Homo sapiens: one gene and its partners. The protein of the gene in region 2 interacts with the protein of the main gene of each other region in a biochemical or structural test. Each region holds a gene or a part of one and is shown on either strand. Other genes may lie near its edges. The genes, in order: WWP1, UBE2L3, SMURF1 and TRIP12.

What was found.
Region 1: the proteins of UBE2L3 (region 2) and WWP1 form a complex in vitro, tested with the Homo sapiens proteins (9 studies listed by BioGRID, with this or other methods).
Region 3: the proteins of UBE2L3 (region 2) and SMURF1 form a complex in vitro, tested with the Homo sapiens proteins (12 studies listed by BioGRID, with this or other methods).
Region 4: the proteins of UBE2L3 (region 2) and TRIP12 form a complex in vitro, tested with the Homo sapiens proteins (6 studies listed by BioGRID).

Annotation. Positions count from the first base shown.
Region 1 is NC_000008.11:86,464,068-86,469,307, forward strand, and holds the end of WWP1 (NEDD4-like E3 ubiquitin-protein ligase WWP1), read left to right. Parts: intron 1-2,726; coding exon 2,727-2,826; 3' UTR 2,827-4,436; downstream 4,437-5,240. Other genes in the region: RMDN1 (regulator of microtubule dynamics protein 1), read right to left, coding at 4,609-4,640. UniProt on the Homo sapiens protein: E3 ubiquitin-protein ligase which accepts ubiquitin from an E2 ubiquitin-conjugating enzyme in the form of a thioester and then directly transfers the ubiquitin to targeted substrates.
Region 2 is NC_000022.11:21,563,183-21,571,005, forward strand, and holds the start of UBE2L3 (ubiquitin-conjugating enzyme E2 L3), read left to right. Parts: upstream 1-4,531; 5' UTR 4,532-4,562; coding exon 4,563-4,589; exon of another isoform or gene 4,590-5,195; intron 5,196-7,823. UniProt on the Homo sapiens protein: Ubiquitin-conjugating enzyme E2 that specifically acts with HECT-type and RBR family E3 ubiquitin-protein ligases.
Region 3 is NC_000007.14:99,140,505-99,148,666, reverse strand, and holds the start of SMURF1 (E3 ubiquitin-protein ligase SMURF1), read left to right. Parts: upstream 1-4,558; 5' UTR 4,559-4,886; coding exon 4,887-4,941; intron 4,942-8,162. UniProt on the Homo sapiens protein: E3 ubiquitin-protein ligase that acts as a negative regulator of BMP signaling pathway. Mediates ubiquitination and degradation of SMAD1 and SMAD5, 2 receptor-regulated SMADs specific for the BMP pathway.
Region 4 is NC_000002.12:229,792,735-229,800,517, forward strand, and holds part of TRIP12 (E3 ubiquitin-protein ligase TRIP12), read right to left. Parts: intron 6,650-7,783; coding exon 6,549-6,649; intron 6,316-6,548; coding exon 6,141-6,315; intron 5,098-6,140; coding exon 4,956-5,097; intron 4,049-4,955; coding exon 3,857-4,048; intron 2,597-3,856; coding exon 2,445-2,596; intron 412-2,444; coding exon 239-411; intron 1-238. UniProt on the Homo sapiens protein: E3 ubiquitin-protein ligase involved in ubiquitin fusion degradation (UFD) pathway and regulation of DNA repair.

The DNA of each region.
Region 1 (5,240 bases), on a different chromosome or scaffold from region 2:
ACAAAAAAAAGATCAAAAAGTGCAAGAAGAGGAAACAGTAGATTTTGTATAACAAAGTACAAAGTGTTCTTTGACTTGATTTCAAACCCATATTGTGCATTCCCTTGTCAAATTTAGTATCAAAGAATAATATCCATAATTACCTGACAAGATGAGTAATCTCCATTTCTAACTATTTATCTGTGTGGGGCTATAGATTAAATGTACAACTAGATATCAAAATCCATATGTTTTCTATTACACCAGATATTTAAAAGATTTCCAAAACTAAAACAAAATCACTCTTTCCACTATTTTTTTTGGAAGTAGTTGGGTTTTTCCCATTAAAATGTTATGTTTATTTTCATATCAAAGTGAATTAATATTTTTTAAACTTCTGTTTTAACTTCTAATCCAGTAAATATCAGTAGCTATAATTCATATAAATAAAAGCTCTTTGCAGTTGGAAATCCATTTTTTTTTTCCCAAGATAGAGTCTTGCTGTGTTACCTATGTTAGAGTGCAGTGGCACAGACACAACTCACTGCAGCCTCAACCTCCTGGGTTCAAGCAATCCTCCTGCCATAGCCTCCTCAGTAGCTGGGACCACCAGTGCACGCCACTATGCCTGGCTAATTTTTTAATTTTTTGTAGGGACAAAGTTTTGCTGTGTTGTCCCAGGTGGGTCTTAAACTCTGGGCTCAAGCTGTCCTGCCTTGGCCTCTGAAAGTGCTGGGATTATAGGCATGAGCCACTGCTCCCAGCCAAGGTTGACAGTATTTTTAAGAGTGAAAAGGAGTCCTGTGACCAAAATTTGAAGACCTCTGCCTTCAATAAAAGTGATAGATCCATATGTATACACACATGCGCGCGCGTGTGTGTGTGTATTGAGAGAGAGATTTTTGAGTCAAAGGGAGAATTAAAATAGATTTCAAATTTTGTGAAAGGAAAGTAATTACCACCCACTGATTTCTGTTTTCTCAAAGTATAAGGAGAAGTCACTGGCTAAGAGTGAAGAAAGGAAAAACTTTTGAGAGAAAGAAGGAATTGGGAGAATTGTTAGAGAATAGGCAAGTATTCATTAGAGGAACACGGCTAAGATTGCTAGGCAAAATTGGATTGCTCACTTGGATTAGAGCATGAAACAAGTTGACAGCAAAGAGCATAAGCTTCCTTTCCCCACCACAGCCCCCTCCCCACCCATAGCAACTCGAAAGCAGCAAAAGTTTTTGAAGAGTGGCATAAACTGGTATGTCTTTTTAGCAAAAAGTAAAAAAGAAACAAAACAAATAGACCCAAAGAATTCTCTGATGGTCCAGGTAAGAGATGATGGGGAAGCATATACAAAGGGATGTAGTGGCAGTAGAAATGATGAGGAGGAGCCTGGGCAACATGACAAAACTTCGTCTCTACAAAAAAAAATACAAAAGTTAGCTGGCCATGGTGGCATGCGCCTGTACTCCCAGCCACTCCAGGGACTGAGGTGGGAGGAGGGAGGATTGCTTCAGCCTGGGAGGTCGAGGTCGCAGTGAGCCGAGACAGTAGCCTAGGCGACACAGCCAGACCCTGTCTCCAAATAAATAATCAGGAGAAAAAATGGAATATTTGGTAGATAGAATGACAGAATTTGGCAAAGGCTATATGTGAAAGATGTAAGAGAACAGAAAGTGACTGGTTGTCTTGTATAGGAAGTATTAAAAAATAATTTTTTTTTCTGACCTTGTTATCATACTCTACCTTGAAGTATAAAGGGGAGGGCAGTATATGGTCTGCTTAGTTGCTGCTATTAATATCTTTAACTTCATTTAAAATACAAAGAATACAGTCTTAGAACAGCACTGTTTTATTTAGATGCCTTGTTTCAAAGGCTCTTTCCTGACTCTGACATGGGAGGGTCAAGGGCACATGGAAAGTGGTGACAGTGGTAAGAAGGCACCTGGATAATCTCTAGAAACCTTCCACATGGGAAAATGAAGGTACAGAAGGGTTCTGACTTACTCAGGGCTATCTCACTAGTCACTGCTACTGTAGGGACCAAAACCCTGAACACCCGAATCCTAATCTAGCTACTCAGTGCTGTACCTCACAAAACGAAATGTTATTCCACCTTTGTAAACTGAAAAATAATAGTTATTTTAAGCATTTTTTAGTATTTTAAAATTTTTATCAGTTAATACCAGAATGGAATTGAGTATGGCAAGATTGAAAAAGTGTCATTTTAGAAGAGTTTATATATGTGGTTAGATTATTTGAAAAGACAAAGAAACATATATATTTGTTAATTGACTGTCTCTACCCCAGAATGTAAATTCCATGAAGACAGGGATTTTAGTTTTCTTCACTGTATCACTAGCTTATCAGTTATATAAAAAATTCTCGGTAAATGACTGATGAATGAGTGACTGAGTGGATGAAAGAAATGGACTCTTATCCTAAGAGAAGTTAAGAGGACTCATGACACATGTAACAGGAATAGTAAAAAGAAAATGGATTTTTTTTTTTTTTTAAATTTGTCTTTATCCATATTGCTACACTTATTATTTGTAATTCCATTTTCCTCTTGGAGATGTTAAAATAGTTTTTATATGTAAGTCTTAAATTTAGATTACTCTAAATACTTCTGGCAAAATTTTAACATATATAGTATACATATATCCATTCAGCATTTCTATGTGCTTTGAAAAGTATTCTATTAGATTTTTTTCATTTTATTGAAAACATCTGATTTTGTTTTTGTTTCTGTTCAGTTTTAATCGCTTGGATCTACCACCATATAAGAGTTATGAACAACTAAAGGAAAAACTTCTTTTTGCAATAGAAGAGACAGAGGGATTTGGACAAGAATGAATGTGGCTTCTTATTTTGGAGGAGCTCTTGCATTTAAATACCCCAGCCAAGAAAAATTGCACAGATAGTGTATATAAGCTGTTCATTCTGTACAGTGAATTTTCCGAACCTCTCAAAGTATGTTTTCCGTTCTTCCACAGAAATATGCAAAACAGTTCATCCTTTTCTACTTTATTTATTGTTCCCTTGAAATGACTGACCAGGAAAAAGATCATCCTTAAATTTTGAAGCAAGTGAGAGACTTTATTAAAAATACATATATATCTATATAAACATATATGATAGTGGCTCTAGTTTTATAGAGCTCCAAGTGTATTAAACATGACAGCCATTCATTCATAAAGATCTGGATTTGCTTTACCTTGTTAATATTATCTAGGGGAAAAAGTGCAAATTGCTCCATGTTCTTCTCTCCCTTATGTAACATCTCCTGAGGGTGTTTAGTTGCATGGCTGTTCAGAAAGGTATTAAGGGCTTAGGCCAAATCTTACTTTGAGTATGTTAAAAAAAAAAAAATGCTGCTGGCTTTTCTGAAGACAGGTGCTTGAACTTGTCAGTTTGTTTTAAATAAATACAATAGTTGAAAATTTTTCTCTGTTACATCAGTAATATTGTTAAAGTAATGGATAGAACCATAACTTACACATGAAAGTCATATACTAGATCCAATACTATTTAGTTTATTATCGAAATTGGAAGGATTCATTGAGCAGCATAGAAGTTTGTTTACATGTTACTTTGAGATGCTAGGTATTTGTGGAATTAAAAAGAATCAGGCTCTTTTGTACTTTGTTTTTAAATCTGTGATGCTTTTCAAATTTAATTCATAATAAATTGATGCAATTTCATACTTAGGAACATACAAAAGGTAATGTAAACTCTGCCACTTTTTTGTGTTCAAAATTTTGGTTTTTATGAAGCCAGATGGATTGAAGAGTTACATAAGCATTTGAATGCTCTAATATAAGGCTAATGATTTTCTGTTAGTGTTTGAATATCTTCATTCCTCTCAAATTCATAACAGTTCTATTTAACTGAATTAAATAACCATATGAAAAATCTTTTGGGTCTCCCCCTTTTTACACAGATAATTATTTTTGTCATAACACTTTTTAATTGTTTTTCATCATAGGGGCCTTTGCTGAACTACAAAAATGTGTAACAAATTAAAATCTGATGTGAATGATATTAATGCTACTTTTAGCAAACTGGGCTTCCTAATACAAAATTTTAAATTTCCATTTGTATCATGCTTTTAATATGCACTGTAAATTTCATTAACTTAAACATTTTTTAATAGCCATGGAACTGACTTCTTAAAATCTGTTGCCTATAAATATTTCACTGCTAAGTACATACAGAAAAACAGTAATTATTGTTTTGCCAAAATTTTATTTTTCTACATATTGAGAGTGTGTTCTCCATTTTATTCAGAATTCATAGTAAAGACGAAAGAAAGGCAGAGATCTGCTTGGTTGAATAGACTCCTTTTCCAAATCCTTATTATGAACACTCTGGTAATTTTCAAGCCTAAAGAATTAAAAAAAAAATTCTAATGTATGTGACAGGTTATGTGATAGAGGGAAACTGGCCTTCAAAAAGGACTGCGTATACCATAAAAGAGTTAAGTATTAGAATTACAAATGGTACCACTGCTGTATAAATTTTGCCATGACAGAAGTTATTGAATATCATTCATTGTAGGTATGATTTAGCAGATTTGACTGAAGAAGGCAGCTTTCCAGTTCGTTTTCAGGGTGCTGGTCTCCCTCAAGTAAGAAATTACGATGCACTAGGTGAGGCTACACAGAACCCTACAAGAGACAAAACCAGCTTTGTTTTGGAGAATTCATCAGGGTCTTCCACTTTTCATACCCAATTATAGATATCCAAGACCTACAGGCAGAGCTCTTGATTTATCTACCCAGTAGCAGTCAGAAAAACTGTAGAAATATGGTCCCCCACTCACCTTCTCCCCTTCTTCCCTTCCCATTCCTGTTCTGTGCTGGACTAACCGAAAGAAATTAGGAGTGCAAGACTCTCTGTGCCCAAAACACAGTTCATGAGGAAACAGACAAGAGGGAGGCTCAGAGACAGGTTTATATTGCTACTTCATTTTGGTGACTCCCCCACCCCCACCACCAGTAAATGGCCCAGGGAATAGCTCACAGGCCCAATACAATTCTGTCTGTTAGATCAGTTAAGCAACACAATTCTATCTGTTAGATCAGTTTAGTTGTTTGTCTTCCAGGGAAAGCAGCTTACCAGTGTTTTTTTTGTTTGTTTGTCCCGCCCCCCCCATGTACTTCCCAAGTAGTTGAAAATGAAAAGGTTAACAAAACCTTTTCCCCTGATGACTTCTGTTAACTACCTAGCTCTTCCTACCCTGACAACTAAATAGGATGGTATGTGTC
Region 2 (7,823 bases):
AGTGAGCCGAGATTGCGCCACTGCACTCCAGCCTGGGCGACAGGGCAAGACTCCGTCTCAAAAAAAAAAAAAAAAAAATTTATTACTGGCCGGGTGTGGTGGCTCACGCCTATAATCCCAGCACTTTGGGAGGCCAAGTCGGGCAGATCACGAGCTCAGGAGATCGAGAGCATCCTGCCTAACACAGTGAAACCCCATCTCTACTGAAAATACCAAAAAAAAAAAAAAAATTAGCCAGGCGTGGTGGCGGGCTCCCGTAGTCCCAGCCACTCAGGAGGCTGAGGCGGGAGAATGGCGTGAACCCGGGAGGCGGAGGTTGCAGTGAGCCGAGATCGCGCCACAGCACTCCAGCCTGGGCGAAGAGCGAGACTCCGTCTCAAAAAAAAAAAATTAATACTTTTTTTTTTTTTTTGAGACGGACTCTCACTCTGTCACCCAGGTTGGAGTGCAATGGTGTGATCTCGGCTCACTGCAACCTCCCCCTCCCGGGTTCGAGCGATTCTCCCGCCTCAGCCTCCCAAGTAGCTGGGACTATAGGCACCCTCCACCACACCCAGCTAATTTTTGTATTTTTAGTAGAGACGGCATTTCACTATGTTGGCCAGGCTGGTCTCGAACTCCTGACCTTGTGATCCGCCTGCCTCAGCTTCCCAAAGTGCTGGGATTACAGGTGTGAGCCACTGCACCTGGACTATTTATTTTTGTAGATATGGTAGTCTTTCTATGTTGCCCAGGCCGGTCTTGAACTCCGGGCCTCAAGTAATTCTCCCGCTTCAGCCTCCTAAAGTGCTGGGATTATAGGTGTGAGACTGTACGCAGCCAAAAAAGTCTACTTCTTTTTCTTTTCTTTCTTTCTTTTTTTTTTTTTTTTGAGACATGGTCTCACTCTTTCACACAGGCTTGAGTGCAGTGGCACGATCACGGCTCACTGTAGTGTCACTCTCCCGGGCCCAAGTGATCCTCTCACTTCAGCCTCCCAAGTAGCTAGAATTACTTGGCCATCACACCTGGCTAATTCTTTTTTTATTTTTTGTTGAGACGGGGTCTCCCTATGTTGCCCAGGATGGTCTCAAACTCTTTGGCTCAAGCAATCCTCCTGCCTTGGCCTCCCCAAGTGCTAGGATTACAGGCATGAGTCACCACAAGGTTACTTCTGATGGGAGGCTTGGGCAGATGGCACAGAAAGGATAGGTCTGTATGAACAAGGTTTGGCTGAGTGGAGGGGATCGGGTATGACTAGAAGCCAGGCCTGCTAGAGGGAGCAATGAAGGTTTTAGAGCAGGAGAGGGACCCCAAAGGCCAGGCAGCCCTTCCACTGGGACTGGGTACATTTCCTGAGTGCTTGTTTAGTAAAAGCACTTTGTAGCTCAGCGGCTTGACTCCCCACCTGCAAAGTGCAAGGGAGTCATCTTGCAGGCAGCGGTGAGGATGTAAGAAGATGCCATGGCAAAGGCTAGTCCTTGACATTGAGCCTCTGATGATCCCACTCTGTATTCTCAGCTTAGCACATCCGGGTCAAAGGTATGAACTGTGCTTCCTCAACTGGCTTGGAATTTCTCAGCGTAAGCGTCCCCTTCCTCCGTAATTCTCCACAGAGGAAAGCAGTTCCCAATACAGCTATGTTTTTTATTTGTCCTGGGCCCAGTAAGGGCAGGTTCTGTGCTCACAGTAGACCCCAGAGTCAGTCCCAGACTTCTAAGTCCCACCATGACCCTAGAGATCTGATGGGGTCCCTCATGCATACGCTGAATGTGTATTGAACACTCAGTGTACTGGCCTTGGGGGAGGTAAAAGGCAGGCAGAATCGCTGATCACATGAGGCTTGTCATCTAGTTTCTCCCTCCTTTACCGTGTCAAGCCTGGGCTCCCAAGATGAGTGTGAGGCCAGCCTTATTCCAGGATATATATATCTATATATATATATTTTTGAGACTGAGTCTTGCTGTGTTACCCAGGCTGGAGTGCTGTGGAGCTATCTCCACTCACGGCAAGCTCCGCCTCCCGGGTTCACGCCATTCTCCTGCCTCAGCCTCCCGAGTAGCTGGGAATACAGGCGCCCGCCACCACGCCCGGCTAATTTTTTGTATTTTTAGTAGAGATGGGGTTTCACCGTGTTAGCCAGGATGGTCTCAATCTCCTGACCTCGTGATCCACCCACCTCGGCTTCCCAAAGTGCTGGGATTACAGGTGTGAACCACCACACCCGGCCCCAGGATATATTATTTCCAGTTCCCTTTCCTTCTCTCCTTTCAGGAGAAACCCACTGTTCTTAGAAATGGAGAAAAATGTCCAGGCCCAGTGACTCACACCTATAATCCCAGCACTTTGGGAGGCCAAGGTGGGTGGATCACTTGAGGTCAGGAGTTCAAGACCATCCTGGCCAAAAATGCTAAAACCCTGTCTCTACTAAAAATACAAAAATTAGCTGGGCATGGTGGCAGGTGCCTGTAATCTATGCTACTCAGGAGGCTGAGGCAGGAGAATCACTTGAACCCGGGAGGCAGAGGTTACAGTGAGCTGAGATCATGCCATTTTGCACTCCACCCTGGGTGACAGAGTGAAACTGTGTCTCAAAAAAAAAAAAAAAAAAAAAAAAAAAAAAGAGAAAAACTCCTTAAGAAGGTCTGAGTATATTCTGAAGCTATGTTCTTCTCTCTGCATTGCTACCTGAGGTCCAAACCACTGTCACCTCTTTGCCTGAATGATTGCAACCGGTTTCCAAGTGGCCCCTGCTCCCCTTCTTATCCTCTTACCCACCTCCATTCCCCATTTTCCAATCAGAGTACTCCTTTTTTTTTTTTTTTTTTTAAGATGGAGTCTCACTCTGTCGCCCAGGCTGGAGTGCAGTGGCGCGGACTTGGCTCACTGCAACCTCTGCCTCCCAGGTTCAAGCGATTCTCCTGCCTCAGCATCCAGAGTAGCTGGGATTACGTTCGCCCACCACCACACCTGGCTAATTTTTGTATTTTTAGTAGAGACGGAGTTTCACCATGTTGGTCAGGGTGGTCTCAAACTCCTGACCTCAAGTGATCCACCCCCCTCAGCCTCCCAAAGTGCTGGGATTACAGGCATCAGCCACTGTGCCAAGCCCCAAAGTACTCTTTAAAACATGCGTCTCAGCCCAGGTGTGGTGGCTCATGCCTGTAATCCCACCACTTTGGGAGGTTGCGGCGGGAGGACTGCTTGAGCTCAGGAGTTTGAGACCAGCCTGGGCAAGACAGTGAGACTTCATTTCTACAAAAAATAAAAAAAAACTTAGGAGGGTGTGGTGGAACGTGCCTGTAGTCCCAGTTAATTGGGAGGCGAAGCAGGAGGATCCCTTGAGCCTAGGAGGTCGAGGCGGCAGTGAGCTGTTATCGTGCCACTGTACTCCAGCCTGGGTGACAGATCAAGACTCTGTCTCAAAAAAAAAAAAAATCATCTGACCATGGAGTCAATACTCATATCTATCAAAGACCTCTCACAGCACATGGAATAGAAACCAACTCCTCCCCTTTCTACAAGACCCTCCATGGTCTGTCCCCTGCCTCCCTCCCACCCTATAATCCTTTTACTCCATTCTGGACACTGAGACAGCCTCATGGTCTTCGCCAGTGCTGCTTCCTCTGCTTGAAACATTCTCCTCCAGTCCTCCCAGCTGTTCCTTCCCATTTTCCAGGTCCCAGCATTGGCTTTGGAGCCAGCAGCCCACCTGTGACAGGAGCCTGGCTCTGCTCCTAGCTGGCCGTGTGACCTTGGGCAAGTCACTGGCTTCTTCTGTGCTTCTGTTTATTGTGAAATGAGGATGTTAATGCTAACGTATCCCAGAGGATGGTTTCAAGGGTTAAAGAAAATAAAGCACTAGAGAGAGGTCTGGCACTTAGTAGGGCCATTTCCTCAATTTGGCTTCCTTGACCTCTCAAAGTATGTCCCCACAGTCACTTTCCTATCACCCAGTTTTCTTCACAGAGCTTGGCAGTGTGAAGTAACCTTGGTTATTCAACTTTTTTTTTTTCCCCCAAGACGGAGTCTTCCTCTGTCACCCAGGCTGGAGTGTAGTGGCAAGATCTCGGCTCACTGCAACCTCTGCCTCCCGGGTTCAAGCGATTCTCCTGCCTCAGCCTCCTGAGTAGCAGAGATTACAGGCGCCCGCCACCACGCCTGGCTAATTTTTTGTATTTTTAGTAGAGACCGAGTTTCACCACGTTGGCCAGGCTGGTCTCGAACTCGTGACCGCGTGATCCACCCGCCTCGGTCTCCCAAAGTGCTGGGATTACAGGCGTGAGCCCCCGCGCCTGGTCAACTATTTTATGCAATCAGTATTTATTATGCTCCTACTATGTGCCAGGCACTGGTTGTAACTGCCATCTGATTGGACGATCCGTAAACGCTGAGGCCCAGTCTGTGCGGTTCACTTGCGTTCCTCCACGCGCCCCCCAGCACAGTGGGAAGCACACAGTAGGTGCTCCGCTCTGCTCCTGTGCCCCGCCCCGCGGCCCCTCCCCCGCTCCAGGAAGTGCGGGGGCTCCAGCCGCCCGGCCGGCCGCGATGCATTCTGGGGAAGGAGCAGCACCAAATCCAAGATGGCGGCCAGCAGGAGGCTGATGAAGGTAAAAGCCATTCTCTGGCAGCGGCCGGGCGTGGGGCGGCGTCCTAGGCTCCGGATCCCCGAGGCAGGCGGCGGCTTCTCAGGGCGCTGCCGTCTGGCTTCCTGCCCTACACGGCCTCGTCGGTTCCCTGGGCCGCGCGCAGGCTCAAGGTGCTAACGGGGCTGGCCTAGGCCGCAGCCTGGGCGGGAGCGCAAGGCCGCGCTGGGAGCCGCTGTCGGCCCCTCAGCCCGGCCCGGGGCGTTCACGCCACTCTCCGCCCGGAGCTTGGCCGCGTCCCCCTGTCGCGGAGGCCGCGGTCCGATCTGAGGGCGTCGTTAATGTGAGAGCCCGGTTGGGAGGCTCCAAACCGGGCGCCTTCGGGGAAGGCCCGAGCGCCGGAGCCCCTGCCCGGAGCCCGCGCCGCGGAACCGCCCCGCCCTGGGCCGCAGCGCGCCGGGCTTGCAGCTCCGCTTGGCCCGGCCGCAGCTCGGGAGTCTGGGAGGTTCGGGCTAGGAAAGAGAGAAGGAGGCCAGGCGGCCAAAGTTAGGTCAGTTTGTTGGTGGGTCGTTTGGAATTGCGCTGGGTCCTAGCAAACTGTCGCCTTGTGACTGCAGAGTCACACAGCGGGTAAGTTCCAACTCCAGGAAGGCCTGAGGTCGGCCCCGATCGCGGCGCGGTTCTGCTTCCCTCTCCTCCACTCAGTCATCCCGATCTCCCCTCCCTGATAAAGTGCCATTTTTGGGGGGATAACGGTTGATTTCAGTCGTTCGAATCAAAACGGGCCAAAGTTTATAATAATAATTTGGTACTTTGGATCTTGAATGCAGCAGGGTGCTTTCTCGCTAATTGGCACCTTTTGGTGAGGAACACATGCTAAATTGGCTTAGTACTTTTGCCAGTGGATTTGCCAAGGTCCTCTGTAGCCCACCCCGCCAGCATCTGTGAGTCGGCGGCTGGGTAGTGCTGCCGGCCTGCAACGGGCCGGAAATTAAAAAAAGGCCCAGGAGCCAGTTTCCTGAGGGGAGATAAAGAGCTGGGGTTCGTTCTAGGCGGAGCAGTGCTTGGTAGAGCTAGACATTGAACTTGGAGCCACAGTCTCTGAGCATTCCCTCCGTCCCTGGGAACGTTTCCTTTCTTTTGTTCCCTAAGGGCTAGAGAGGACATTAACTTTATAAAACTGGAGTGGAAGTGGGCACAAAAGAACAGTCAGAGGACTTCAGACCTCTCCTCATCTCTTAAGCTAGTGACACCACCATTCACCAGATAAGGGGTCGGTTAATGGCTTTCTTTCCTACCCTACTCCCAGGTGCAGTCGTCCATTAACCCTTGTGGATTTAAATTTAGAAAGATTTCTGGAGTGCAGGCCGGGCGCGATGGCTCACGCCTGTAATCCCAGCACTCCTGGGAGGCCGAGGCGGGCGGATCACTTGAGGTCAGGAGTTCAAGACCAGCCTGGCCAACATGGTGAAACCCTGTCTCTACTAAAAATATAAAAATTAGCTGGGCGTGGTTGCATTTGCCTGTAATCTCAGCTACCCGGGAGGCTGAGGTGGAAGAGTCGCTTGAACCCGGCAGGTGGAGGTTGCAGTGAGCCAAGTTTGCACCACTGCACTCCAGCCAGGGCGACAGAGTGAGACTCCATGTCAAAAAAAAAAAAAAAAAAAAGATTTCTGGAGTGCATGCCTTGCTTTCTAATGTTACTGAAATTACTCTGAATCTATATCCTCATCTCTCAGGTGCCCTCCCAAGTGCTCTCCTCCCCAGACTACCCCTGACGGACACCAGAGTTCTTTTAAAGCAGATAACTCAATTCTTTCACTCCTGTTAAAAACCTCTATGGTGTTATTGTCCTCAGCAGTTAATCCTAACCTCTTACTTGGCATGCAGGACCTTTCTGAGACTGGCTGAAAGCAATCCCTTGAGCCTCACCTCCTGCCCTTTGGTTTCCCACAGTTCTTGCACCTAATCACAGTAGCTACTATTTTTCCAGCTTTTACTTCGTGCTTTATATGCATGATCATGTTTAATCCTTCCTGTGAAGTAGACATTGTGATTTCCATTTTGTCGATGAGAAAAGATTCTTTGGCTTGCCCAGGGTTACCTAGCTAGGGAGAGTGAGTTGTGATCGAATTCGGTTCTTTCTCCAAAGCAAAGTCTCCTGCTCTTACTTGCTGTCTGATGTCCCTTTGCACGTGTTGTTTGCTCTACCCAAGAAAAGCTGCCTTCTCCTCACTTCTCCCTTCCAGAGAAGTCCCAGGTTCAACTCCAGTGCCAACTACTCTGTGAGCCCGTGCTCCCACATCCCCCTTCAGAATGTGTTGTTTCCTCCTTTGTGTGACCACAGCGCTTTCTTTATATTTCTCTTTGAGCACTTGTCACAATCTCTTTGTGTTACAGACTTGTCTTTCCTGTACTGGGTTCTGAGATCCCGAAGGGCAGGGATCTTGACCTAATTCATCCTGGTAGCCCCCTAGCCTATCCCAGTTGACCCAGTTTGGAATCTCCAGGCTCTCAGGGGTCTAAGAGGGGACTTATTATGGTTTTAAAATTATTACTCTGTTTCTAAAAAAAAACAGACCTTGGAAAAAAATTGTAACATTAACTGAGTATTTATTAAGTATTAGGTTATTTACGTAAGTCATCTTTTCAACACTCAAAGTTAGTGTATTGTCATTTGTATTTTTTATAAATGAGGACATTGTGAGGTTAAGTAGGTTAAGGGAGTTACCTAAGGTAGAATTGTGGAACGTGGTGGGGAGAGAGAAGACGCTGACTCTTCCTGGCTCCAGGATCCAAATTCCATGCCTCTTGTCAGGCTGTCTTTCTTACTCAAAGGCTGCATGGAGCGGTGTGTTGTTTCTTAAGTTGAGGATGGAAAGGCTTTCAGTTCACTAGGGGAACACCAGTTATGTAATGCTGATCATTGGCTGTGAGAATCAATGTTTAAGACTGTTTTTTTTTTCTTTTAAAGGAAGAAAAATTATTGATACAAGTTGATAAACAGTCTTTTCAGTACATAGGGTGGTAATAAAGTGATTTTCGTTGGTGAAAAGTTGGGGCTTAGTGCATGGAACAGTGCCTTAGGCATAGCAATCTAGCAAATGTTGAATGATCAAATTAATTACATCTTAAAGAACTTTAGATTTCTGTTAAAAATGTTTTCTAGGACATTCCACAGCAAAGATTTCTTTGTAACAATGGACTGTCTGCAGATAGTGTAAAACACATTATTAAAAGTAGAGTGATTTACATATA
Region 3 (8,162 bases), on a different chromosome or scaffold from region 2:
TCAGCCATGATGATGGCACTGCCTTCCAGCCTGGGTGACAGAGTGAGACCCTCTCTTTTAAAGAATAAATAAGGAGTTATTAATCTAGGGACTACAGGCCCTTACAGGATTCATAAATTGGTTTCAGGTGATCATAAACCCACTGAAATCAGAGGCAAATTTTGATGTGTATTTGCACATATGAATTTTTCTGGAGGAAGGAGTCCAGAGTTTCCATCAGATTGTCAAAGAGGTTTGGGACTCAGAAACTGGTTAAGAACTACTGCAGTCAGATCCAAAGACAGATTTGCCCACTGGAAAATATTTCAAATGCCCAATAACACTGACTCAGGGAACTGATACATTTCTGGGAAATAAAAGCAGTCAAATGCTACCTAGAAAGCAGGGTCAAAACTGCTCTGTGTAAAGCCATTGCAAAGAGGACACTTGAGGAGGCTCACCGAGTTCCATCTCTGTTTCAGCAGAATTGTTTGACATTTTGCATCTGTTTGTTCCAGATAGCTTTAGAAGATTGTATTTTCGAGGAATGTGATACATGATGAAAGGAAGGGAAGATGATATATCTTAAGTTCAATATGATAGCGTCTGATGATTTTTAAGTGGGCAAATGCTTTTTGTTATTTTTAATCAACTTTTTTTTTTTTTTTAAAGACATGGGGTCTCATTCTGTGATCTAGACTGGAATGCAGTGGCACAATCATAGCTCACTGCAGCCTTGCGCTACTGGGCTCAAGCCATCCTCCCACCTTGGCCTCCTGAGTAGCTGGGACTACAGACATGCACCACCTCACCCAGATAATTTTTAAATTTTTTGTAGAGATGGGGGTCTCGTTATGTTGCCCAGGCTTTTATCAAAAAAAAAAATTTTTTTTTTTGAGATAGAGTCTTGCTCTTATCGCCCAGGCTGGAGGGCAGCAGTGCAATCTCAGCTCACTGCAACCTCCGCCTCCCGGGTTCAAGAGATTCTCCTGCCTCAGCCTCCCGAGTAGCTGGGATTACAGGCGCCTGCCACTACACCCAGGTTATTTTTGTATTTTTAGTAGAGATGGGGTTTCACCATGTTGGCCAGGATGGTCTCAAACTCCTGACCTCAGGTGATCCACCCGCCTTGGTCTCCCAAAATGCTGGGATTACAGGCGTGAGCCACTGTGCCCGGACTTTTATCAACTTTTAATGGAGTAAGTTGTATGGATAGAGTATACAAGCAGCTCCATAAGTACATTTTTATTGAAAATGGTGCTGGAAAATGCCATTCACGTTCATGCCTTTGTGCAGCTGTTCCTTCTATCTATAATGCCCTTCCTCACCACTTTGCCCAGCAAACTTGAACGTTGGCTTTAAGCTCTAGATTAAGATCATCTGTGACTCGAGATGTCTCCATTTCTCTTCTTATGTAGAATTGTTCTGTCATCTATGTTCTAGCCTGCTATACACATCCCCATCACTGTATCATTGTCAGTTGCTCATGTCTGTTTCATCCAGTTAACTGACCCTCTGGAATGCTGAAGCTGTAATAGATTTATTTTGTATTCCTTGTTCCTAGCCACATAGCAGGTGGCCAATGTTTGCCGAATGAGTAAAACATGAGCTTCCAGGTAGGAAGGTCCCCTTTGTGCAGCTGTGGTGAAAGATACTATTGGGTATATCTAGCAATTTCAAATGGTCCCAGTTTATGACGGTTTGACTTACGATTTTTTGATGTTATGGTAGGAAAGCGACACACATTCAGTAGAAACCACACTTCAAATTTCGAATTTTGATTCAAAATTCTTTATAATAACTTTATCGTAAAATAGGCTTTGTGTTAGATGATTTTGCCCCACCGTATGGTAATGAAAGTGTTCTGTGCACATTTAAGGTAGGCTGGGCTAAGCTATAATGGCTGGTAGCTTAGGTGTAGTAAATGCATTTTCCGTTGTTTTTTTTTTTTTTTTTTTTTTTTTTTTTTTTTTTTTAAGACACAGTCTCGCTCTATTGCCCAGGCTGAAGTGCAGTGGCACAATCTCGCCTCACTGCAACCTCTGCCTCCCGAGTTTAAGTGATTTTTGTGCCTCAGCCTCCCGAGTAGCTGGGACTACAGGTGCACACCACCACACCCAGTTAACTTTTGTATTTTTAGTTGACAGGGTTTCACCATGTTAGCCAGGCTGGTCTCGAACTCCTGCTCGCAGGTAATCCCCCCACCTCAGCCTCCTAAAGTGCTGGGATTACAGGCATGAACCACCATGCCCGGCCTCCGCAAATGCATTTTTGACATATTTTCAACATATTATGGGTTTATCAGAATGTAACCCCATTGTACATCAAGGAGCATCTGTACTTGTTAATGAATGAACAAAATGCCTTTCAGAAACCTCCAGAAGCAACCTCCTGACTCAAAGATTAAGGAAACAGTCAAGCCAACGAAGAACCAGCCGTCGGGGCGGGGAGAAAAACAACAAAATTAAGCAATGAAAGGTTTCCAGGTCAGGAACACCTGGGGATAAGAACAGGAGCCTGCACCCAGGTAAGCAGAGAGTGATGTCTGGTTTTGTTTAGAGAGGAGACTCTTTGAATAGGGGGGAAATACTAACGGGATTGGCAGAAGAATGGGGATTACTTGGGAGCATTAGAGACTGGATGGATTAATTCAGACCCAGGCATTCACTCTCTGTGACAATCATCTACAAATGGAAACAGCTGGATTGTGGCTCTACTGCTATTGCTTAAACATTGCTTATATTCTTGGGTCTTTCTTGAGGATAACTGAAAGAGCCGCAAGGTGCCATAGAAATGACCTAGGACCATCCTTTTATTTGACAGATGTGATGCCTTGAATCCTGCCCAGGAGAGACTCTGCTTTCACTAGGGTCATCCGAGGCAGGCAGGCAGGCAGGCAGGCGGGCAGGCAGGCAGGTATGTCTAGGCGCTCTAGGTAGAAGGCTCTGTTCCGAAGACTGTGACCTTAGGACAGGCACAAGGCTGCAGGGGATGGTAGCAATGGCCCAGAGCCTACTTTCCTTGGGACACACACACACACACACACACACACAGTATTAAAAGAATTTGTTCAAGTTGATTGATGAAGAATCAAATAAAAATAAAAAAGAACTTGTACATGAAAATGGGTAGTGGGGTCTGGGAGCGGTGGCTTAGGCCTGAAATCCCAGCACTTTGGGAGGCTGAAGCGGGCAGATCACCTGAGCTCAGAAGTTTGAGACCAGCCTGGCCAAAACAGCGAAACCCCATCTCTACCAAAAATACAAAAATTAGCTGGGTGTGGTGGCTAACGCCTGTAATCCCAGCTATACAGGAGGCTGAGACACGAGAATCACTTGAACCTGGGAGGTGGAGGTTGCAGTGAGCCAAGACCGTGCCACTGCACTCCAGCCTGGGTGACAGAGTGAGACCCTGTCTCAAAAAACAACAACAACAACAACAAGGTAGTGGGTAAAAAACAAGTTTGATAAACCTAGTTTTCCCTCTTTCTAATAATACCAGTTTATTTCTATAACATGCTAACAGAGAGGAGTTTGTTTGCTGGAGAAAGCGCATAATGAGCTTTTTCTGTGTGTGTGTGTGTGTGTGTGTGTGTGTGTTTTGAGACAGTGTCTAGCTCTGTCACCCAGGCTGTAGTGCAGTGGCCTGATCATAGCTCACTGCAGCCATGAACTCTGGGGCTCAAGTGATCCTCCCACCTCAGCCTCCCAGTACCTGGGACTACAGGCGCGCACCACCATGCCCAGCTAATTTTTGTATTTTTTGTAGAGATGGAGTCTCCCTATGTTGCCCAGGCTGGCCTCAAAGTCCTGGGCTCAAGTGATCCGCCCGCCTCGGCCTCCCAAAGTGCTGGGATTACAGGCTACAGCCACCGTACCCAGCCATGAGCTTTTGGTTCTAACCTGCAACCCCGGGAGAAGGGGAAATTTAGCAGAAGACATGGGAACACAAACCACAATGCCACTTTCTTGTTTGGTAAAATTGTATGCAGAATGGATAATAACAAACATCCGCCTCTCAACTTTATCCCTCCCTCTCATCTCGTTTTCCTTGTCCGTATATGGCACTTCTGCGATTCTGGCAACTTTGTTATGGGTCAGTGGAGCACACCCGTTGCACAGAACACACCTAAGGGCTTTGTCTCTTTGAGAAGTCCCTCCCTTGAACTTGCACGATCGAAAGCTCTTAACTGAAAAAAACTGGTATTGCACGCCTGTGTGCAAGGAGCTTGGTGTGGACACAGCCCACGGTTTCATGCAAACCACTCTTCAGTCACTCAGGAGCCCAGAGCCTCGCAGAGACAGGGGTCAAGACAGAGGGCGACCGCGCGCTGGGTCCCGGGGCCAGCTCTGCTCTCCCTTCCCGGGCTCGGGGCCAGACCCTCCCACCCACCGACCACAGGAAGGGTGAAGACCCCAACCCGCGGGATCCGGGCCCCGCGCGCCCGAGGCAGGCGTGCGGGCGACGTAGCAGCGCACCCCGCCCCGCCCCAGCGTACGTGGCGGGGGCGCGCACGCACGCAGGCGCGGGGGCGCGCAGGGCCGGGCCGGCACGGCGGCGGGCGCGCGCGCGGCTCGGAGAGGCGGCGGCAGCGGCGGAAGCGGCGAGGGCGGCGGGCGTCCGGCTCTGAGGTGGTGGAGGCGGCGGAGGCGGCGGCGGAGGCGGCGGCGGCTCGGGACTGGGCTCGGCTGGAAGCAGCGAGGGTCAGAGCGCCGCAGCAAGCGCCGATCTCCCGGCTCGACCATCCGCCTGCCGCCCGGACGCCTGGGCCGCGGAGTTTGTGTCCCGGCTCGGACCCCGGCGCCCAGCCCGGAGCCGTAACCTTGAGGCGGCGGCGGCGGGGCCGGGCCGGGCCGGGCTGGGGGGCGGTGGCGCTGGATCCGCGGCTGCCCGATCGTTGGCGGGAGATGTCGAACCCCGGGACACGCAGGAACGGCTCCAGCATCAAGATCCGTCTGACAGGTACGGCCGGCGGGAGGCCCACCCGCGCCCCGGCGCCCCCTCGCCCGCCCCGGAATTCCCCGCAGGGCGCCCTTGGAAGCGGCCCTCCCCCACGCCGGCCGTTGTCCCAGGACCTCGTCACCCCCTTCGGCGTGCGCCCCTCGCTTCTCCCTCCTGGCCCCGCCCCCTCGCCGTTGCCCGGCCCCGCCCCCTGGCCGCTCGCGCCCCCTCGGTCTCGCGTTCCCTCCCGTTCCCCCGCACCTGCCCCCTCGCATCTCCGTCCTGGCCCCGCCCCTCTCATTTCCATTCATGGCCACGCCCCTTGCATCTCCTTCCCTGGCCCCGCCCCTCGCTTCTCTTTTCCTGGCCCCGCCCCTTGCATCTCCTTCCAGGCCCTTTCCCCTCACCTCTCCCCGGCTCGGCCCCTTGCCTCTCGCTTCCCTTCCTCTCCCTAGCACCTGACCCCTCGCTTCTCCCCCCAGGCCCCGCCCCCTTGCCTTTCACCTCCATCCCTGTGGTCCTTTCTCTTCCCCACCTTTCCTCCCCAAACCTGACCCCGCCCATCTCTCTGGCCCCACCCCCTCGCTCCTCTCTGCTCCCGCCTCCTAACTTTCTGTCCCCGCCCCCTCGCTTCTCCCTGCGTCCAGCTCCCTCGCTTCTCTCTGGTCCCGCCTCCTCACTTCTTTCCTAGCCTGGGCCCTCACTTCTTCCTGGTCCCGCCTCCTCACTTCTTTCCTAGCATCGGCCCTCACTTCTTCCTGGTCCCGCCCCCTTGCTTCTCTCCTTTTTTTCTCCTCCGCCGTTTTTACCCCCTCCCTCCTTCTCCTCGCTTCCCATCCTCTCCGCCCACCTGCCCCCTCGCTTTTCCCTCCTGGCCTTGCCTCTGTTCCCCTGGTCCCATCCCTCACTTCTCACCACTTTCCCATCATCTCTCTTGCTTTCCTGTTTTCCCTCCCACCTGCTCCCTCCCCTCATCCTCCTGGTCTTTCCCACCACTTCCAAGCTATTTTGCTACCTCCCCTTCCACTTGCCCCCTTGCTTCTCCCCTCCTGCCCCCACCCACCCTCTTCTCACTCCCCCATCCTCTTTCGTTTCTCCCTCACCCCCCCACACCGTCCTCCTCCCTTCTTCCCCTAGCCCCGCCCCTCACTTTCAAGCCCCGCCCTCATTCCTGCCTAGCCCCGCCCCCTCGCTGCTGTCTGGCGAGGCCTCCACCCTTTCTTTCCTTCAGCCTGAAATTCCTCAATCCTATCTTGTAGCTGCTCCCAGTCCTGCTCTCTTCACTTCCCCCTGGTCCAGCCCTCTTCAGTCTCAGTCTGGGCCACTTCCTGTCTCTTAGGCCAGACCGCTAGCTACTTTTAACTCTGCTTCTTCAATTTTTACCTTTTCTGCATTTTGTTTCACCATCACCCCCACACTCAGCAACCCAGAGCGCCGTGAGGCTCTGATCCCTACTCCCACACTCACTGGAGGCTTTGGAAGCTGCCCACACGCAGGCTCCTTGATTCATTTTGTCTTCAATGAAAAGTCCGTGTTTCCTGGGTGGCTCTGTAGTGCCACCTTCAAGGGTGAGCGCAACGCTCTGCCGCGGGCCTGCGACTTGGTGGCGCGGATGTGATGCCAACCTGTTTCCCCCCGGGCTCCAGAGGTTCTGGACCAGGCTGCATCCTCGTCTTCCCTTTCTCACTCTCATTGGTACTACTCTCTTTCCAGTTTCAATTCATCCCTAAAGCAGGATGGCCGTGTTGCAAATGCGGCTCTGCTCCGGGACTTTCCAAACTCGAATATTTCCAGCTCTGGAAGGAAACTAAAAAGTTCATTCTAATCCCCGTCAGGGATTTTCCCCTGGATTTTTCTGTTCAGTGGCTCAGTCGGGTGAGAACTCCAAAGTCCTGGTTTGGTCAGGTCCTTTCAAAGAGAGAATGAGCGTTTTGAACACTTTATGGCAGATGCGCAGCCATAAAGTCATCGGTAAAATCCATGCAAACAATAGGTAATTTTTTTAAACTAAAATTTACTTTGAGAGCCCATAGTTGTTGCATGGCCCAACTTTTGTCTTAAGAGAAGGTTTTGTTTTTTTGTATAAAGATATCAAATAATGATTTGGACCCAAACCCAGACCCTGGTTTTGTAACGTAGGAGGTAGTTTCCTCTGGGATCTTTGCTTCTGGGGAAATACATTTCTTTATGCCAGGGCTGATAGGAAACGCTTCTCACTTTGTAGATACAATGTAGATACATTTTTATTTATGTGGTAAGATAAAAGTAACATTTTTGAGATTGTAATACTTGTAAAGCTTTTAACTTGGTTCTGATTTACAGCTCAGTCTGTAATTGACATCAGATTGGTTTCAGTTATCTTGTTAAAAGCGAAAGCAACTGATTTTGTGTTAGAAATATGATGAATGTTTTAGAAGGAATAGGTTTTAATTGAAATGTTTATGTCTGGTGTATGTATATTAATCAATCCTATTTGCCAAGCCTGAGCCTTGAAAGGGAGGACTTGGTTTCTCCTCCTACCAAATTATTTTTGGATTTAGGAATTTAGATTATCGAAGCAAGAATGCTTTGAGGAATTTTTGGATGACATTTGATAGGGAAGGATCAGGTGATGAGTGTTGTTTCTGAAACACCTTTTCCCTTTCCCTTTCCCTTTCAGTAGATGTTATGAATGGTTTGAGAGGATTTGTGAGTGTGATCATCCTTACAATAGGATTGCGGTTTAGCGGTAATGGTACACATGCAATGCCAGTACGTGGAACCTTAGTTTACCTCGAAAGGTTTGAACTAGAAGTTTGTTGACGGTGGAATAGGTTTTAGTCTCATCTTTCTGGTTAAGGGAAGTTTGAATTCTCACTTCTGGGATGTTGAGAAGCAATCTTTCAAAATTTGAATACTTTTGTTACAGGTTTCAGAGTTTATTTCCATGTTTGTTATTTGGAAAAAAAAAAAAGACTGTTAAAAATGAGGGATATTTCAACCAGTCAATGAATAGACACAGAGCGAAATTCAGTGCAAAGATAGTGAAGATGGCCTGGCGCCGTGGCTCACGCCTGAATCCCAGCACTTTGGGAGGCTGAGGCAGATCACGAGGTCAGGAGGTTGAGACCATCCTGGCTAACACGGTGAAACCCCGTCTCTACTAGAAATACAAAAAATTAGCTGGGCGCGGTGGCTCACACCTGTAATCTCAGCACTTTGGGAGGCTGAGGTGGGGCGGATCACGAGGTCAGGAGATTGAG
Region 4 (7,783 bases), on a different chromosome or scaffold from region 2:
CATTTCTACTACATTTCACCAAGATAAATTAACTCAACATTCAAGGAAGCAGTCAACCCCTAGTAAGTTCAATGTATGACTATATACTAAGTAGAAAATAAAAGACAGGAATATAAGTTCCTGCCATCTATTTTTTAACAGAAACAACATTAAACAGAGAAATAATGTATGTAACTCTTAATGTAAATTTCTCCCAAATATACATATATAACACACGAAACAAATATATGGAAAGTACCTCTAACTACAAGGTATCTCTCGATGGCTTGTACCAAAGCCAGAGGGTCAATCTTGACAGGTCCACCCTTCCACTGCTTCACATTTGCACAGTCTGGATGCCTTTGTAACTGGCATTTTAATTGATGTGTGTTGAAAAATTTTAAAGCCTGTGATCCTCTGTTGAGAGAAAAGCTCAAGATAATTTGTGAAAAAAAAGTTAGTCTATTATTTTCACATTTAATATACATTAATTCAAATAAAGGCAAGTTAATACAAACTGCATTTTCATAAGACACACTAGTACTAAGCATTTACTTACCAGTTCTGTGAATGGTAAAGCCAATAATTCAAGTTATTTAGAAAAAATTTTTATACGTAAGAAATAAAAGACGGATGTGTATGCATGCATATGAAAACCTTAAGTCAATATTTGATCTCTGTCCCATCATAAATCCATGGGAGCAGAAATACTTCACCCATGAATATTTAATTATTTTTCTGGAACAAAAATTCCTGAACTATTTAAGCACACTCACTTCTGCAATATTTTGCCCATTCCTATTGAATTATATTTTTTAAAAAGAAAAAAAAAACTCTTTATTTCAAAGATTTCAGCTACAATATTACATTAAAAACTAACCTTTAAAATTTACCTTGCTATAATAGTTTTGAACGAAGCGGTTTAATAGCTACTGCAGTTGAAACCTGGTCATGATGTTTAATTGCTCATTTCAGAAAAGCTCTGGCAGGAGTCAGATACAAACTTAAACTGTGATTATCTGTATGATTCCACAAAGCAAGCTTGTCCAACCTGCGGCCCACAGGCCACATGCAGCCCAGATGGCTTTGTATATAGGCCAACATAAATTCGTAAACTTTCTTAAAATACAATGAGTGTTTTTTTTTTTTAAGCTCATCAACTAACATTAGTGTTGGTGTATTTTATGTGGCCCAAGACAATTCATCTTCCAATATAGCCCAGGGAAGCCAAAAGATTGGACCCTCCTGCACATAAAGCACACAAATAGGGATGTGGAGAATATTCCATTTTATGAATATATACATATGCAAACATATTTTATATAAATTTGGACACAAAAAGCTTCATGATTTTCTCAAGCACAGGTCAAAATGCCCCCTTATTTCATGAACTCCTCCAGGAAATCATAACGATCAAAACTGAATACCACACACTACATTAAATTTCAAAGCAGAAAAGAAACCCTAGTCCATGATGTGATTGCTTTATCACTCAAAAATGCATATGGTTTTTAATTCAAACAAAGTTTTTTAAATGTTTTTAAAACGTCAAAATGTGGATTTAAAAACCAAACTAGGCTGAGTGTGGTGGCTCAGAAATCCCAGCACTTTGGGAGGCCAAGGCAGGAGGATCACTTGGGCCCAAGAGTTTGAGACCAGCCTGGGCAACAAAGTGAGACCCCGTCTCTACAAAAAATAAAAAAATTAATGGAACATGGTGGCACATGCCTGTGGCCCCAGCTACGTGGCAGGCTGAGGCAGAAAGATCTCTTCAGCCAGGAGGTCAAGGCTGCAGTGAGCCATGTTCACACTAGTGTAATTTGGCTTGGGCAACAAAGTAAGACTCTGTCCCAAAATAAATAAATAAATAAATAAATAAATAAAAACCAAACAAATTTCCTATTTTCTAGGCCTCCGGTCAAAATATTCCATGAAACTTGTAACATTCCACAACATAGAACAATTCTTTCCTGTAGCACCTCAAGAGTCCTTAAAACTACATTAAAAATATATATATTTATTAAACTAGTAAAACTTCAAACATTTGACCCCATCAAAATACAAAGTTATAGCCACTAATATTACATATAAATCATATCGCTCAAAATGTAAACATTACTCACAGCCACAAAAAATTTTTTATCCCTACTGAAGTTAAACATAAAGTTCTTAAGGAAGTTTTGTATGCTGAAGTGTATCAATTTAAGGAAAACTAAGCCTATTACAAGTTACAAATACAATCACTGGATTATATATTTATAAAGCATCCTGTTTAAGGCATATGGTATAATTTTAAAGATAAGAAAGCATTTGATTCATTCTTTAGAGTGCTTAATTTCTTTCATCATTACAGCTGAATGTTTTCTGGGCCAATCAAGACTTTACCAGACCTCTTGCCATCTTACTTCAGTGAAATTAAGTACCAAATTCCAGTGGCAAGGGTATAGCCAGGCAATGGTCCTTACCTGCCTCCTGTCCCATTTCCACTAGGGAAATCATGTACTTTGACTGGAAATTGTTCCATCTGGCTGAGGCAGTTGTTCATCTTGTGAACTAATGCCAACAAAGGTGCATTACCCACTGGTTCCACTCTTCCAATGGGCTCTTCTCCAGGAAGCTAAAGTTATAAATAAACAAACAGGTTAAACAAAGCCTTTTCAAAACAAAAGTCTCCTCAAAGAGAAGATTTAATAAGCAGCTTTATAAAAGAGAATAATTTGTCTATTCATCTTTATCTTTTATGGCAGATTTGGTTTGAACGATGTTACCACGTCAATTATTTCAATAAAGACAACTGTTTTGTACAGCCCACAATCCTGTATTCACAATCTCTACATCCAAAGGCTCTGAAAACACAAGTCACTTGGTGGCAAAATCTGATCCAAACAGACATAAGGCTATTTACAGTCTTTATTTATCTGATTTTAGTAAGAATATTCATGTTATGCTATAAAAATATTTAATGCATATAATATACAGTGCTATTCAGAAACTGCTGGGAATTTTAATGTACTACACACTGTAGGACCTTTGAAACCGACCAAACTCCAGGGGTTTCAGAAAAGAGATTGCACATAATCTTAAGTATGCTGTAAAACTATACATAATACTGTCACGCTTCTAATGAATCTCCAATAAATACTAACTTTGCTTTAGGTTGACTCACAAGTTAAAATACAAGCAATGCTCAAATGCCTCTGAGGACTGCAAGCGCATGGTGAAATAGTGTTAATACATAGGAGAGCTATGCTAAGCCCTATTACACAGATAATAGGGAACGTTTCCAAGTGATGCCTTCTCTTTAAGCCACTGTAAAACAAGGAGAATGCTGTCAACAGCATCCAAGGATTACCCTCTTGCTCTGGCCCACTTAAGAGTGAAGGAAGGGGAGCCACTCTGTGGCTTTGTAATCCACATTATAAACGGTGACATAAATGGTCATTAAGCGCCCTTGATTGGAACTGTTACAACTGTATTTTATGTACAAAACAAGAAAATATAACTCCTCTATCTTATTATAGATGTCTGTTTCACTAAAAGGAACTAATACAAACTTCAATACATTTAAAAACAAATATTGCAAGTAAAATACATTCACAGGTGAGAGACTACTATTAATGGCTCATCCTGCAAGCAAAAAAGACTCAAGATACTTCAATCATAGAAATAGTGACATGGGCTTTGTTAAATCCCCATTTCATTGTTTTACTATTTACTTTGATATACAGAAGTTGAAGGATTCCAACTATGTGAAAACCTAGAAGTTTTCCCTCAATGTCTTGACCAAGACCTGCTGGAAATTATTACTGAGATGAAAATATATGCATTAGTGAGCACTGATTCTTAAAAGATACACAGGCATTATTAGATAACTTACTGGAGAAGAAAAAAATACATGAAGAAATCGCTTTAATCTGATCTCTCTGCTCACAGCATCCTTTTCACTTTTAGATGTCAAATAAAGCAACAGCTGCTTCACAAATCCACTATGTTGGATTTCAAATGATGAAACATCTGACTCTGAGACTATGCTACGGATTTCTACAAGGCACTCAGCTCCACCATCCACCTGAAAGAGTTAGGAAAAGTATTTCTATATTGATTTAAGCAGCACTTAAAAAATACACAACTCACATATCCTCAAAAGGAAATGAATATATTCTCAACGCCCTTAAAAAAGAGGGCAGGGGAGTGGTACAGTCTTAGTAAATCCTTGGAAATTATGATTTTAAACACACACACACACACACTAAATATTTCATGAGGAAAACCAGGAATCCATAATAACATAAGAAGAAAATCTTCATATTCAACCAATGTAGTTTTCTTTAAAAAAGAGTATTTTAAAAGATGAGAACAGAAAACTGAAGAATAAGGGGCTATAACACCAGAATGGAAAGATGAATCAAGAATACAAGGTGTGGCTTTAAATTAATACATTTAAGGTCTCAGCAAAATGAACAATTTCTTGGAAAACATACTACCAAAACTGCTCAAGGTACATCAAAAACATCAAAATAAATAAATAAATAAAAATAAAAATAAGAACAAAAACTGAGAACCAGATGAAACGTAAAACACTTATTAGTAAACCTCTAGCCTCTCCTGCCACTCTGAGACCCCATGTGAAGAGAGGGGCTAAGGAAGGCCTATCATCTATACCTATAGTTGAGGATGACTTAGAAAACAGATGTGCTTGTGAGGACATTTCTGAAGTTTCTTCATTTGTCAAGAATGATGAGATGTGAAGGAAAGAAAGTCAAAGATGAGGTTTCTAGTACATTTAATACAGACTGATGAATCCTGATAGTCAAGGGATAAGTAAAAGAAATGCCAGCACCAAGGGTGTATATAAGGTAAAAGTCGATGTAGGATAGCTAAATCCATAGGAAGCTAGAGAGTCATGAAGGAAAAGAGTAGCAGGAGATGCTGGGAAGAGACTGAAAAAGACCAGCAAAATGCACTGGACACAGCACCTGGAGGTTGAGTTGTTCGGTTGCAGCACAAAGTCTCTGAAGGACATTCAATGCAGGGTTGCTTCCATCCATATTCTCAGAACTGAAATAACGTTCTACAAATTTATGTGCCTGCTCCTTAATCCAACCTTTAATTTTTTCTCTACAAGAAACAAAAAGGAGATATTAAAGTCCCAGTGTATGTAGAAAGGATATAACTTCTGATCAAGGCAAATAGCTGCTACATTTAAAATTCATCCTGGTCTATGCTTACAGTTTAAAAACTCCAGATTCCATAACCAAATTAACTTTCACTTTGAAAATGGGCTACGATGTACCACCTGGAGAACTGTTTAAAAACTTAAAATACACTGCAGGTCATTACATGAATTGTAAACAAAGTGTAATAATTTTTTGGAACCCTGCAATATAACACTTTCCTAAGTGTTCCCTTTACTTCCTAAAGTACATACATATCTGCATTATCCTTAACTTGTGTTTCCTGGAGAGCTGAAGTAAAGATTTACAGACCAGAAACATGCGCCTATTAAGGATGTAATAAGCTATGGCAAATAAGACCCGGCTGCTTAAATTACAAATGCTGATGGCTTCAGAAATCCATTCACTTAATTATTTTTATACACTGAAATTAAGAAAAACAACCAACAAAACCAAAGAGAGCATGTTTATTTTCTCAATGACATTTGGTCTTTTAAAATTTCTTATCTGCAGAGGGAAGTAATCATGTTGGTATGCTACATGCAGAACCCAAAAATAAAACAAGTCCCAAGGACTTAAAAAAAAAAAAAAAGGCTCTCCCCTAAAATCCTGAAGTTCCATTGTAATGGGTAGAGAAATTTTATCATAAAAGATGTGAAGAATGTGGACAGAAAATGTCAGCTTTTCCTTGTCTGGAACAAAACTGAGGAAGAGGTTCCCCAAGGAATACAATGTGGTTTTGAACGTATAAGACTTTCAGCTAGGTATGCTGGAAGGAGTTTCAAAGCACATGACTGGAACTTAGGACAAAGCCAGATGCAGGGTTCATAAACTGAGAAACTACCTAATTCTTGAACTATGCTTTTAAGAACAAATTAAAGTGCTGTGTCTATGTATCGTCTCCACACAATAAACGTACTGGCTGAAATAATGTTTAAGTTTTTCTGATATGGGAATAGAAGAAACATAAAACTCCCCCCACTTCACCTATTATTGGAGATGGTATCCTTTGAGGCAGCCCTGGCAAGGCCACTACCTCCCGCAGTCCGTGCTGGCTCAATGTTGTTGCTGTTGGACTGTGTACTTAACCTTCCCCATGTTTTTGGATTCAAGCTTGCCAGGAAAGAAGATTTAGGTGACTGAGTAGTGGTGGGGCTTTTAGCTATGAAAAGAAAAAAGAACTACAGTTAAGTCATTTTAGTTTAAGTGATGAAAAACAACTGATTTTTAAGATTCACAGTCTTAACAGATTAATTAACTGAAAGAACTAAGAACACTTAGTCCTCAGGAAACTTAGGCATACTTCAAGAGCTACTGGCAGTTTTAATAAAGTACATTTCTGCACCTGCTACCACCCTCCCCTTTACCTCCCCATAGTTTCATCAAAGGGGTTACCTTGATTGTCTACTTTGTCATCATCTCTTGGAGGTGAGTACTTTGGCCTTCTTGGCCCTCGTTTTGGCAGTCGTTTTCTCTTTAGAACATCACTTAATCGACTGTCCATGGGAAAATATGAGATAAGTTTAGCAATTACCACTGTTTTATATCTTCACTCACTGAAAAAGCAAACTAAAATGGCAGAAACAGGGAGTAATAAAATACTGTCAGGCCGGGCGCGGTGGCTCACGCCTGTAATCCCAGCACTTTGGGAGGCCGAGGCGGGCAGATCACGAGGTCAGGAGATCAAGACCATCCTGGCTAACATGGTGAAACCCCATCTCTACTAAAAATACAAAAATTAGCCGGGCGTGGTGGCGGGCGCCTGTAGTCTCAGCTACTGAGGAGGCTGAGGCAGGAGAATGGCGTGAACCCGGGAGGCGGAGCTTGCAGTGAGCCGAGATAGCGCCACTGCACTCCAGCCTGGGAGATAGTGAGACTCCATCTCAAAAAAAAAAAAAATACTGTCATAACAAGGTATGTTCTTGTTTAGTGATTATTTAATGCCAATTCTGTGCCAGTCATGTTCTAGAGGTGTGCAGACACAGCAAATGATTATTCAGAAAATAACTAGCTGTTTAACTATACTGAACTATGAAACATAAAGCCAGATAAGATGACTGATCAATTTTCTATGTGTTCCACTTTAAATAGTAGTATATAAGTACATAAAGCAAATATGCAACACAAAGGAGCAAAATAAAAATAAACGGGTAATCACCAACCTGAAAAAGAATGTTAAATCCACATAACACACTTTTTCCATAACCAAAATGGCCGTGAGTAAAATATACATGACCCTTAGTGTTCATGTTGTCAAAATACTCATCTGCCTCTAACATACTACCCAAAGTAATTTCATAGTGTGACAATGGCAATAACATACTAAATAAATGCATTTATGAACATTTTAGTTGGTTTTTTTAAACCTATATACAAATCTAGTGAGTAGTATGAGTAATTTATTCTGAATTAGAATCATTTGCAAAATTAAACACCTGTAGCCTGTTCTAACGACAGTAGAAATAGTTTGTAACAGCAATAAATTTTTAGAATAACAAAACTAAATAAGATGAAAAGGCTGAAAAATGTTGTGGTTTAGTTGGTCTGTGGCCCAAATAAAACTGGAAAAATCTGAAAAAAAATTGGAAAATTTCCAACACCTGACATTTCTATGGAATATACTTAATAAT